3 separate regions of the Homo sapiens genome follow, and all the other regions are linked to region 2. Evidence: fine-mapped expression QTL. A gene starts in region 2. Each other region holds a variant in brackets. All regions are shown on one strand. Distances are from middle to middle. Region 1 overlaps PKP3 (plakophilin 3). Region 2 holds the start of B4GALNT4 (beta-1,4-N-acetyl-galactosaminyltransferase 4). Region 3 overlaps ANO9 (anoctamin 9).

Region 1 (2,740 bases), 36 kb before region 2:
CTGGTGCAGCCACAGCTTCCGGTGGGTCCCGCGCGGGGTTGGGTGGGCCCCAGCGTAGCACCCACCCCCCTGACGGTCCCGCCCCGCAGGGAGGGCCTGTGCCGGCTGCTGGAGCTCACCCGCAGACCCATCTTCATCACCTTCGAGGGCCAGAGGCGCGACCCCGCGCACCCGGCGCTCCGCCTGCTGCGCCAGCACCGCCACCTGGTGACCTTGCTGCTCTGGAGGCCCGGCTCCGTGGTGCGGAGCAGGCGCGGGAGGGTCCGGGGCTAGCGGCGGGTTAGAGATGGGCGGTGCCCGGGCTCCAGGCTGGGACCCCTCCGTGGGGAGCTCTGCGGCACCACGCTTTGTGAATGGGCCCTGGGGGGAGGTTCCGCTGCCTGGGGCCCCGATGCGGGGAGCCGCCCTTGAGGCCCCCGGAGCCACGGAATAGCTGTCGCAGGGCGTGGAACCCGTGGGCAGCCGCAGGTGTGCTCTTGGGGGCCAGGACGCCAGGGGCTTCCGAGGTGTTCACACCTGCAAACCGCCCCGACCTGGCCCCCAGACTCCTTCCTCCGATTTTTGGAAAGAAGTGCAGCTGGCGCTGCCGCGGAAGGTGCAGTACAGGCCTGTGGAAGGAGACCCCCAGACGCAGCTGCAGGACGACAAGGACCCCATGCTGATTCTTCGAGGCCGAGTCCCTGAGGGCCGGGCCCTGGACTCAGAGGTGGACCCGGACCCTGAGGGCGACCTGGGTATGCCCGCCCAGCCCCACTCCCCAACTGGAGAAGCTCAGCACAGGGCGGAGTGGGGGCAGGCACAGGGCACAGGGCCTGGAGGGGCTCCAGGTGTTGAGGACTCTTCCCGGCACCGGGAGCCCCTGCACGGCCTCTGCCCTGGAGGTGCTCGGCCCTCGGTCTGCCTGGGAACTTCCTGGGCCTCACAGGCCATCACAGCAGGGGGTGAGCAGGGGCAGCCCCTGGCAGTGGGTCTGGGCCAAGGCTGTGGGTGGCCACCTCAGGCGTCTCGGTCTCCCCACCCCAGGTGTCCGGGGGCCTGTCTTTGGAGAGCCATCAGCTCCACCGCACACCAGTGGGGTCTCGCTGGGAGAGAGCCGGAGCAGCGAAGTGGACGTCTCGGATCTCGGCTCGCGAAACTACAGTGCCCGCACAGACTTCTACTGCCTGGTGTCCAAGGATGATATGTAGCTCCCACCCCAGAGTGCAGGATCATAGGGACAGCGGGGGCCAGGGCAGCGGCGTCGCTCCTCTGCTCAACAGGACCACAACCCCTGCCAGCAGCCCTGGGACCCTGCCAGCAGCCCTGGGAAAAGGCTGTGGCCTCAGGGCGCCTCCCAGTGCCAGAAAATAAAGTCCTTTTGGATTCTGCTGGGGCCTC[G/A]GTCTCCTCCCTTGCGGCGGAAGGTTTCGGATTCGGCTTCCCTCTGCGGCTCTCTCAGCCTTCCACCCCTCCTCTCTCATCCCCACCCCTCCCTCTCTCATCCCCACCCGCCAAATCACCAAATCTGCCCTCTCTCCATCCCCCTTCCTAAGCCAGCTCAGGCGTGTCCCGTGCTTACAGTAGCCTCCTTGGGCCTCCTTGCCTGGTCCCTGGTTGGGGACGTGACTCTTCCTAGACCCTTCCCATGCAGGCAGATCCTGGATGGGGGCAGGCTCCTTAGAGACCTCAAGTTCTGAGCTTCACAGAAACTTTCTGTTTTAAGAATATCCACAGTAACTTCACAACTAAATGGCCTGGCTCTGGGTGAGATGGATGGGGGTGTCCGAGAGCCCACTGGACCCCAAACCTCAGGCAGCCAGTGTGAGAGCCCCTGGTCCAGGCAACTCCAGGCCCAGGGTGGGCGGCGGAGGAGTTGGGTTCATTTGCCGCATGAGTGTAGCCCACGAGGCAGCCACCCTGTTCCTACTCCAGTCACCCCTCTACTCTCGAGGCCCCCAGCTCTGCTCCGTCTGTGCCTGTGGTGCACCCGCTGTCCACCCTGTCCCCTCTCGGCCCTGAGGTGCCAGCTGTCCCTCTGCTGGGCTCTCCATGTCCTATGTCCTCTGATCTTGGGAGGCTTGTGTGTGAGCCCAGGGGGTGGGTGTCCTCAGGGGCAGGGGGTGCCTGGGGACACCTTGAGTCCCAGGATCATGCTGCCAGCCACAGGGTCGGGCCAGCCATGGAAGGACACAGGGCAGTGACTGTTCATGGCCATCTTTATTCCCAGTGCTGGCTATCCCAAGATACTGCCAGGCCACAGCCAACCCCCACCTCTGCCAATGTGACTGGGTCACCACCCCATACACCAGAGCAGCCTTGAGCCCTGCCCCACCCCCTGCCCTGCGGAAGCCAAGTCCCCAGCTATAAGACCCTGCCCCTCCTGGTGGCCCAGGACCCTCAAAGATGCACACAGGGGCCCCAGCGAGGGGCCCCTCCGTCATTAGCCTTCTCCTCCAGGCTGGGCTGCCAAGCAGCCTGGAGCTGAGTCTGTCCCTTGGACGCTGGGCCACGTCACCTTCTCCTCCAGAAGGCTTCACCTATGGGCCCAGGAAGTCCTCCTTCCGATAGCCCTTCTACAGTGGAGAGAGGCCCAAGGTCAGGGTGCATGTCTGCCCATGTGGCCCTCTGCCCGCTGTCCCTCCTGCAGTGTGCTGGGTGTGGCCCGGACCCTTCCTCTCTGGGTCCCTGGTCTCCATCCTCCCATGGGCCTCTTCACTGACCCTCCCCCGGCGTCCCATGCCCTGCACCCGGGTCCCTGCTTGCC
Region 2 (2,746 bases):
TGTGGGTTGGGACAAGCCCCAGACCCTTGGCCTGTGTGGGTCCAGGCGTCCCGGTACAGGAAGAGAACACAGGGGCTTTGGCAGGTGGAGTGGCCCAGGAGTCCCCAGCCAGTATCATTGTTCTGCCCCCTCAGGACACCTGGCTCCCTGGAAAAGGCTCAGAGGCAGCCAGCTGGGGTCTCTCCTGGTCTGGGCATGGCACTAACCTCCCTCCTCCAGAGGGGGCATTCTGCCCCACCTTCTCCCCCAACCCCACCGCCAGGCTTTCATCTGCGCCTTCCTGTCTGGAATGCTCTTTCCCCCAAAGGTGTATGTCAAAGATCACCATCTCCAGGAGGCCCTACCCCGGCTGGCTCACCGTGACCCCATCTGCTTTGTTTGTGGGTTGGGGTTGGGAGAGTTTACGCCAGGCTCCCCAAGCTGGGCCCCATCCCTACGCATGGACCCCCACAACACTGGCACAGTTCACCGAAGGCGCCCCCGCCGGGAAGCGTCCCAGCTGCACCGGCCACTTCAGCAAGCCCCGGCCCGGGTCCCCAGCACACAGGGAAACTGAGGCCCTGCTAAGCGGGCAGGGGGTGGAGGCGAGGCCTGAGAAGGCCTCTTGGAAGCCTCAGCAGGGTCTAGGGGCAGAGACTTCCCCAGGAGCCCACCGTCAGCCCCTCACTACCGGATCCAAGCCAGATCCCAGAGTCAGGGACCCTCTCTGGGAGGGTCGCGCGCGTCACTGCCGACGTCATCGAGCGTCCGGGCCGAGCCGAACCGCGCCCCCTCCCCCCAAATCGCAGAGCGGAGAACAGCGGGCGGGGTCTCCGGGAGGGTCGGGCCCAGCCGAGACCTCTGTGCGGTGGGAGGCCCGGCCCGCGCCCCGGGGCCCCCGCCGCCCGCGCCGCCCGCGCCCCCCGCGCCGCCCGCGCCCCCCGCGCCCCCCGCGCCGCCCCCGCCCCCCGCGCCCCCCGCGCCCCCCGCGCCGTACCTCGCCCGTAGCCCAGGCGCTGGCGCAGCGCGCGTCCCTGGCGCACCAGGCCCAGGTGCACGTAGGTGAGCCACGCGGCGCAGCTCAGCAGCAGCAGCAGCAGCAGCAGCTTCATCTGCTTACGGATCTTCTTCACCGGGAGCCGCGGCATCGCGGCCGCCGCGCCCGCCCCAGGCCGCGCTCAGCGGCGCCGCTGCAGCCCCCGGCCCCCGCCCGCCCCGCGCCGCATCCCCGGCCCGCCCCGCCGCGCTCAGCGCCCGCGGCCCCGCATGGTCCTTTGTCCGCCGTGCGCGGCCACCGGGTGCGGCCGCGACCCCCCCAGGCCGCCCTCGGCCGCGGGCCCGGGGTGGGCGGCGGGGGCGGCTCCTCGCGGTGCCCCCCGCCCGGCCGCTCCCGGCTCCGCGCTCCTGGGGCGGCGGCGGGACCGAACAGCATCCACGGCTGCCACCGCGGATCGGGCCCCGGCCGCGCGCGCGGAACCAATCGGACCGAGCCAGGCCGCGGGGAGCCAATGGCGGCGCGCGGGGAGGGGTGCGGGGCGCGGGAAGGCGGGGCGGGGCGCGGGGTGCGGGGCGGAGGAGGCGGGGCGAGGGGAGGCGGGGCGGGGCGGGGGGTGCGGAGGGTGCGGGGCGGGGGGTGAGGGGTGCGGGACGGACAGGGATGCGGGGCGCGGGGCGCGCGTCCACCTGGGCCACGGAGCGCGGGGGCGCGGCACACAGACGCGGGGCTGGGAAGCGCTGGGGCTCGGGGACCGTGGGGGGCGGCGGGGGATGGGCACAGCCTGACTGTGGGGCGGGGCGGCCTCCCGAGAACAGTGACCCGAAGGACTGCAGGCGGACAACACGGAGGAGGGAGGGGAGGGACCCGGGGTCCTGGGGGGCGGGGAATGGGGGCGGGCGAGAGAGGCCGGGGGGCGGGGGGGCCCAAGCACCGGCTTCAGCCCAGGGGTGGGAGTCGTTGCGGGATCTCAGCCTGCAGGGCTGGGGCCGCAGGGGGCCGAGCTGTCTGGGCGGCAGGAGGGGCCTCAGCTGGTGGCCCCCGCCCCACCGAGCGCGGCCTGAGGCAGGTGACAGTGTCGTGCCTCTCACCGGGACCTTGTCCCACTTCGTGCCCTTTCTCACCTGGTCTGCACCAACCCCTGCCAGTCCCTCTGTCCCCCCAGTACTTCCCTTGTCCAGCTGCCAGCGTGACCCTACTCTTCTCCCTCTGTCTGCTCAGCTGTCTCTGGGTGTGTAGCAAACCGCCCAGCTTCAGTGCTGTCCAACAGCAGCGTTCCTGTGTTCCTGTGTCCTGTGGGTCAGGAACTCAGGGCACTCGGGGACAGCTCCTCTCTGCTCCTCGAGGTGCTGGCCTCCGGTGGGAAGACGTGAGTGGTGGGGCCGGCTCCGCGGGACAGGCTGGAGCCATCCAGAGACTTCTGCCCCAAGCCAGTGCACCCTCGGCAGGAATGGCTGGGCTCACCCCGGGTGGTTGGCCAGAGCGCCTGCAGGCTCAGCTGCCAGGGGCAGCCTCCCGGTCCAGCACACAGAGTGAAGCATCTTGGAGTCACCCCTCAGGTTTGCCACATGCCGCACGGCCACCCAAGTTCGTGGGTTGTGGGGACGTGGACCCCACCTCACAATGGAAGATTGCCCAGAAGTTGCCTTCTTAAGACCTCAACTCCTTCCCTCCTTCCCCTCCATCCTCCTCCCCTAACTTCTGAGCACAGAAGCAAGCTGGTTACATCCTGCTGTTCATACCGGCCCTTAAACAACACCCGGTCTCTCAAAC
Region 3 (2,746 bases), 71 kb before region 2:
CCCCAGACCTGGCAGCTTTGCCTTGCAGCTGGCCCCTAAGGGGGAGCGGGCTGTGGGCACCAGGCAGGCTGCCCCAGGGTTGGGAGCTGCAGAGTGGCCGGCGGGCTGTGGGCTCTCTGCTCCCCAAGGACCCCGCCCAGCACAGGTGGGGGCCGACTGCTGCTGCTGGATTCCGATTCTGGGGGTGGGCGCTGACTGCTGCTGCTGGATTCCGATTCTGGGGGAGGGAGTGCAGGTGAACACGTAGAAAGACATCCTTTCTCCCCTCTGCCAGTGAAGAGGTCACCTGGGGCCAGGGCCAACACCTGGGCAGGTCAGCACCTGGTCGGCCCAGGGAGGAGGCAGTGGTGAGGTGTGGAGTGAAACCAGCCTCCCTCTCGGCCTGCCAGGGCCTCCACGTGTGGGCTGCGCCGGCGGCCTCTTGCTCCATCTCCGCCCAGGGCTCTCCTCGGCCCTCCACATCCAGGTCTGACACCCTGGCTGCTCAGCCCAGCACCTGATGCCCCTTAGCCTGAGCTCAGGGTCCCCTCTGCCAGCCCCTTCCTCCCATGCTGGGGGTTAGAGGAGAGACTTGGGGCTGGCCAGGGGTTGGGTTGGGAGAAGCAGCACCTGGTTTGTTGGAAGTGAGAGCATCAGTCCTTCAAAAAAGACAGTTGCAGCCGGGCCTGGTGGCGCATGCCTGTGGTCCCGGCTACTCCGGAAGCTGAGGCAAGAGGATTGCTTGAACCCGGGCGTCGTGGCATGCACCTGCAGTCTCAGCTACTCAGGAGGCTGAGGCAGGAGGACTGCTCGAACCCGGGCGTGGTGGCGCGTGCCTGCGCTCCCAGCTACTCGGGAGGCTGAGGCAGGAGGACTGCTGGAACCCGGGCGTGGTGGCATGAGCCTGCGGTCCCAGCTACTCCGGAGGCTGAGGCAGGAGGGTTGCTCGAGCCTGGGAGTTCTGGGCTGTAGTGTGTTAGGCTGACTGGCTGTCCGCACATCAGTATGGTGACCTCCCAGGAGCAGGGGACCACCAAGTTGCCTAAGGAGGGGTGAACCGGTCCAGGTCGGAAACGGAGCAGGTCAAAACTCCTGTGGTGATCAAAAAGGACAGTTGCAGACATGGGGAGGACTTGCTAGTCCCAGCTCCAGGCTGGATCTGGGCGTGCCTTTCCTCTGCTCTAACCCCTTCCATGGCTCCCCACTGCCCCCTGCTGAAGTCCAAGCTCTCCATTTGGCCAAGAAGCCTAGCAGCCTCCCCTGATTGGCCTCTGCCAACCTCCAGCCTCCCCTTCTGGCAGCTCCCTTCTTGCCCTTTATGCTTCTGCAAAGCTGAAGTACCAAGGACTGAGTCCCTGGACTCAGTTTCCGTAGGTGCCGAGTGCTGAGTCACCAGGAGTAGTAGCTACCAAGTCCTCCTTGGAGGTGCTGAGTGCTGAGTCCCTGGGAGGTGCTGACTGCTGAGTCCCAGACACCAACTGCACCCTGATTCTCAGGGCGTGCCCACACATGTTCTTTCTCCCGGGAATGCTGCCCCCATTTTCTCACCTTTTGCCAACCTCTTGCCCTACAATGCCAAGCTCCATGCCTCCTCACCTGCCAAGTAGGCCCCCGCCCCTGCGTCCACGAACGCCACGCACTGCCTGG[GA/A]GGGCTGCACGCAGGTCGCTCCGTCAGTGTCTGGGGATGGACGGGCACACGGATGGGTGAACTGACAGATGACAGACTGGACAGCTGGAGGGGCCGGGGGGTGGGCAGAAGACTGGCTTCAGGAGCGCAGAGCCAGCTGGGGAGGGTTTGCTCAGAGGATGCGTGGGCTGGGCAGAGGCGAGACGCTGTGGCTCACAAGGTGGGCCTCTCCATGCTTGGGACTGCGGTGGGGCAGAAGGGGACCCTCTGTGGATGACGAAACTGTAAAGTTCTCAAGGGCCAGATCCCAGAGGGCTCAGGGCACCGGCCAAGAGGCTTGACGTGACCTCAGGAGGAGATGAGGCCCAAACACCTTCCCATGCACAGCTGGGGGGATGTGCGTCGTGGGACCCCCTGGCCAGGCCTGCTCCTTCTCATGCACAGCTGGGGGGATGTGCGTCATGGGACCCCCTGGCCAGGCCTCTCAGGAGTAGGGTGGGGTCATATCTGCACAACCATCTCCTCTGCCTGCCCCCAACCTGGAGGCTGGACTGGGAAGAGGATGGATGGGCAGGACCCCCAGCTCTGTCCTCACACTCCAGCCCTTGGGAGGGAGGGTCTCCTGCAGGCTACAGTGTCTCCAGAAGCTTCCTCACTGGGAACCAGGGGCTTGCCCACTGGACGCTGGCCTATGCCCACAATGGGGGTGCCAAGAGCCCCCCACAAACTCCCTGGGGCCCTGGAGTACTGGGTGTGTCACCTGTGAGGGCTGTGGGACAGGAAGGATGGGGGAGAACAGTGTGTGGTTCTGTCCACCTTCTTCCTGTGTCTGCACGTCGCTGAGGTGACCTGGGGGCTGGGGTGAGGACACCCTGTTGTACAGACGAGGAAACTGAGGCCTGGGGTGTTTCGGTGGCGTCAGAGCTAGGGCCTGGCCGGCTGTCCACCCAGAGCCGGCCTCCCTCTCTGGGTTTGCAGATGGCAAGGCTGGCTGAAGCTTCAGAGGCCCTCAGACTGAGTGTGTAGGGACAGCCCCTGTCCCTACCCTGGGAGCTGGAAGCCTGTGGGCCCATACATAGTTTCCCGGAGGTGGGGCCCATGGACTGGGGACATGGGGGTCCCAGACATCTCACTGTGGAT

Evidence for each region.
Region 1: its variant is fine-mapped to the expression of B4GALNT4 in whole blood (TOPMed, PIP above 0.99).
Region 3: its variant is fine-mapped to the expression of B4GALNT4 in whole blood (INTERVAL, PIP 0.94).

The regions. Positions count from the first base shown.
Region 1 is chr11:404,343-407,082 of GRCh38, reverse strand. PKP3 (plakophilin 3) reads right to left here. Exons shown (of 13, transcript NM_007183.4): 13 at 2,175-2,549. The coding sequence ends at 2,514. It overlaps SIGIRR (single Ig and TIR domain containing), which reads left to right. Exons shown (of 10, transcript NM_001135054.2): 7 at 1-21; 8 at 90-240; 9 at 545-734; 10 at 1,024-1,367. The coding sequence ends at 1,187. Among named protein-coding and RNA genes, the nearest start is that of SIGIRR, 9.3 kb to the left of the region's middle. RefSeq lists silencers at 1-231, 242-291 and an enhancer at 868-1,561. The variant G/A (reference allele first, on the strand shown) is at 1,378.
Region 2 is chr11:368,185-370,930 of GRCh38, reverse strand. It overlaps B4GALNT4 (beta-1,4-N-acetyl-galactosaminyltransferase 4), which reads right to left and starts at 1,432. Exons shown (of 20, transcript NM_178537.5): 1 at 977-1,432. The coding sequence starts at 1,127. RefSeq lists an enhancer at 2,361-2,746.
Region 3 is chr11:438,810-441,555 of GRCh38, reverse strand. The region is part of intron 1 of ANO9 (anoctamin 9); the gene reads left to right. LOC105376506 (a long non-coding RNA gene) reads right to left here. Exons shown (of 5, transcript XR_007062542.1): 4 at 1,576-1,657; 5 at 883-1,071. It also overlaps the pseudogene RN7SL838P. Among named protein-coding and RNA genes, the nearest start is that of ANO9, 1.8 kb to the left of the region's middle. The variant GA/A (reference allele first, on the strand shown) is at 1,627.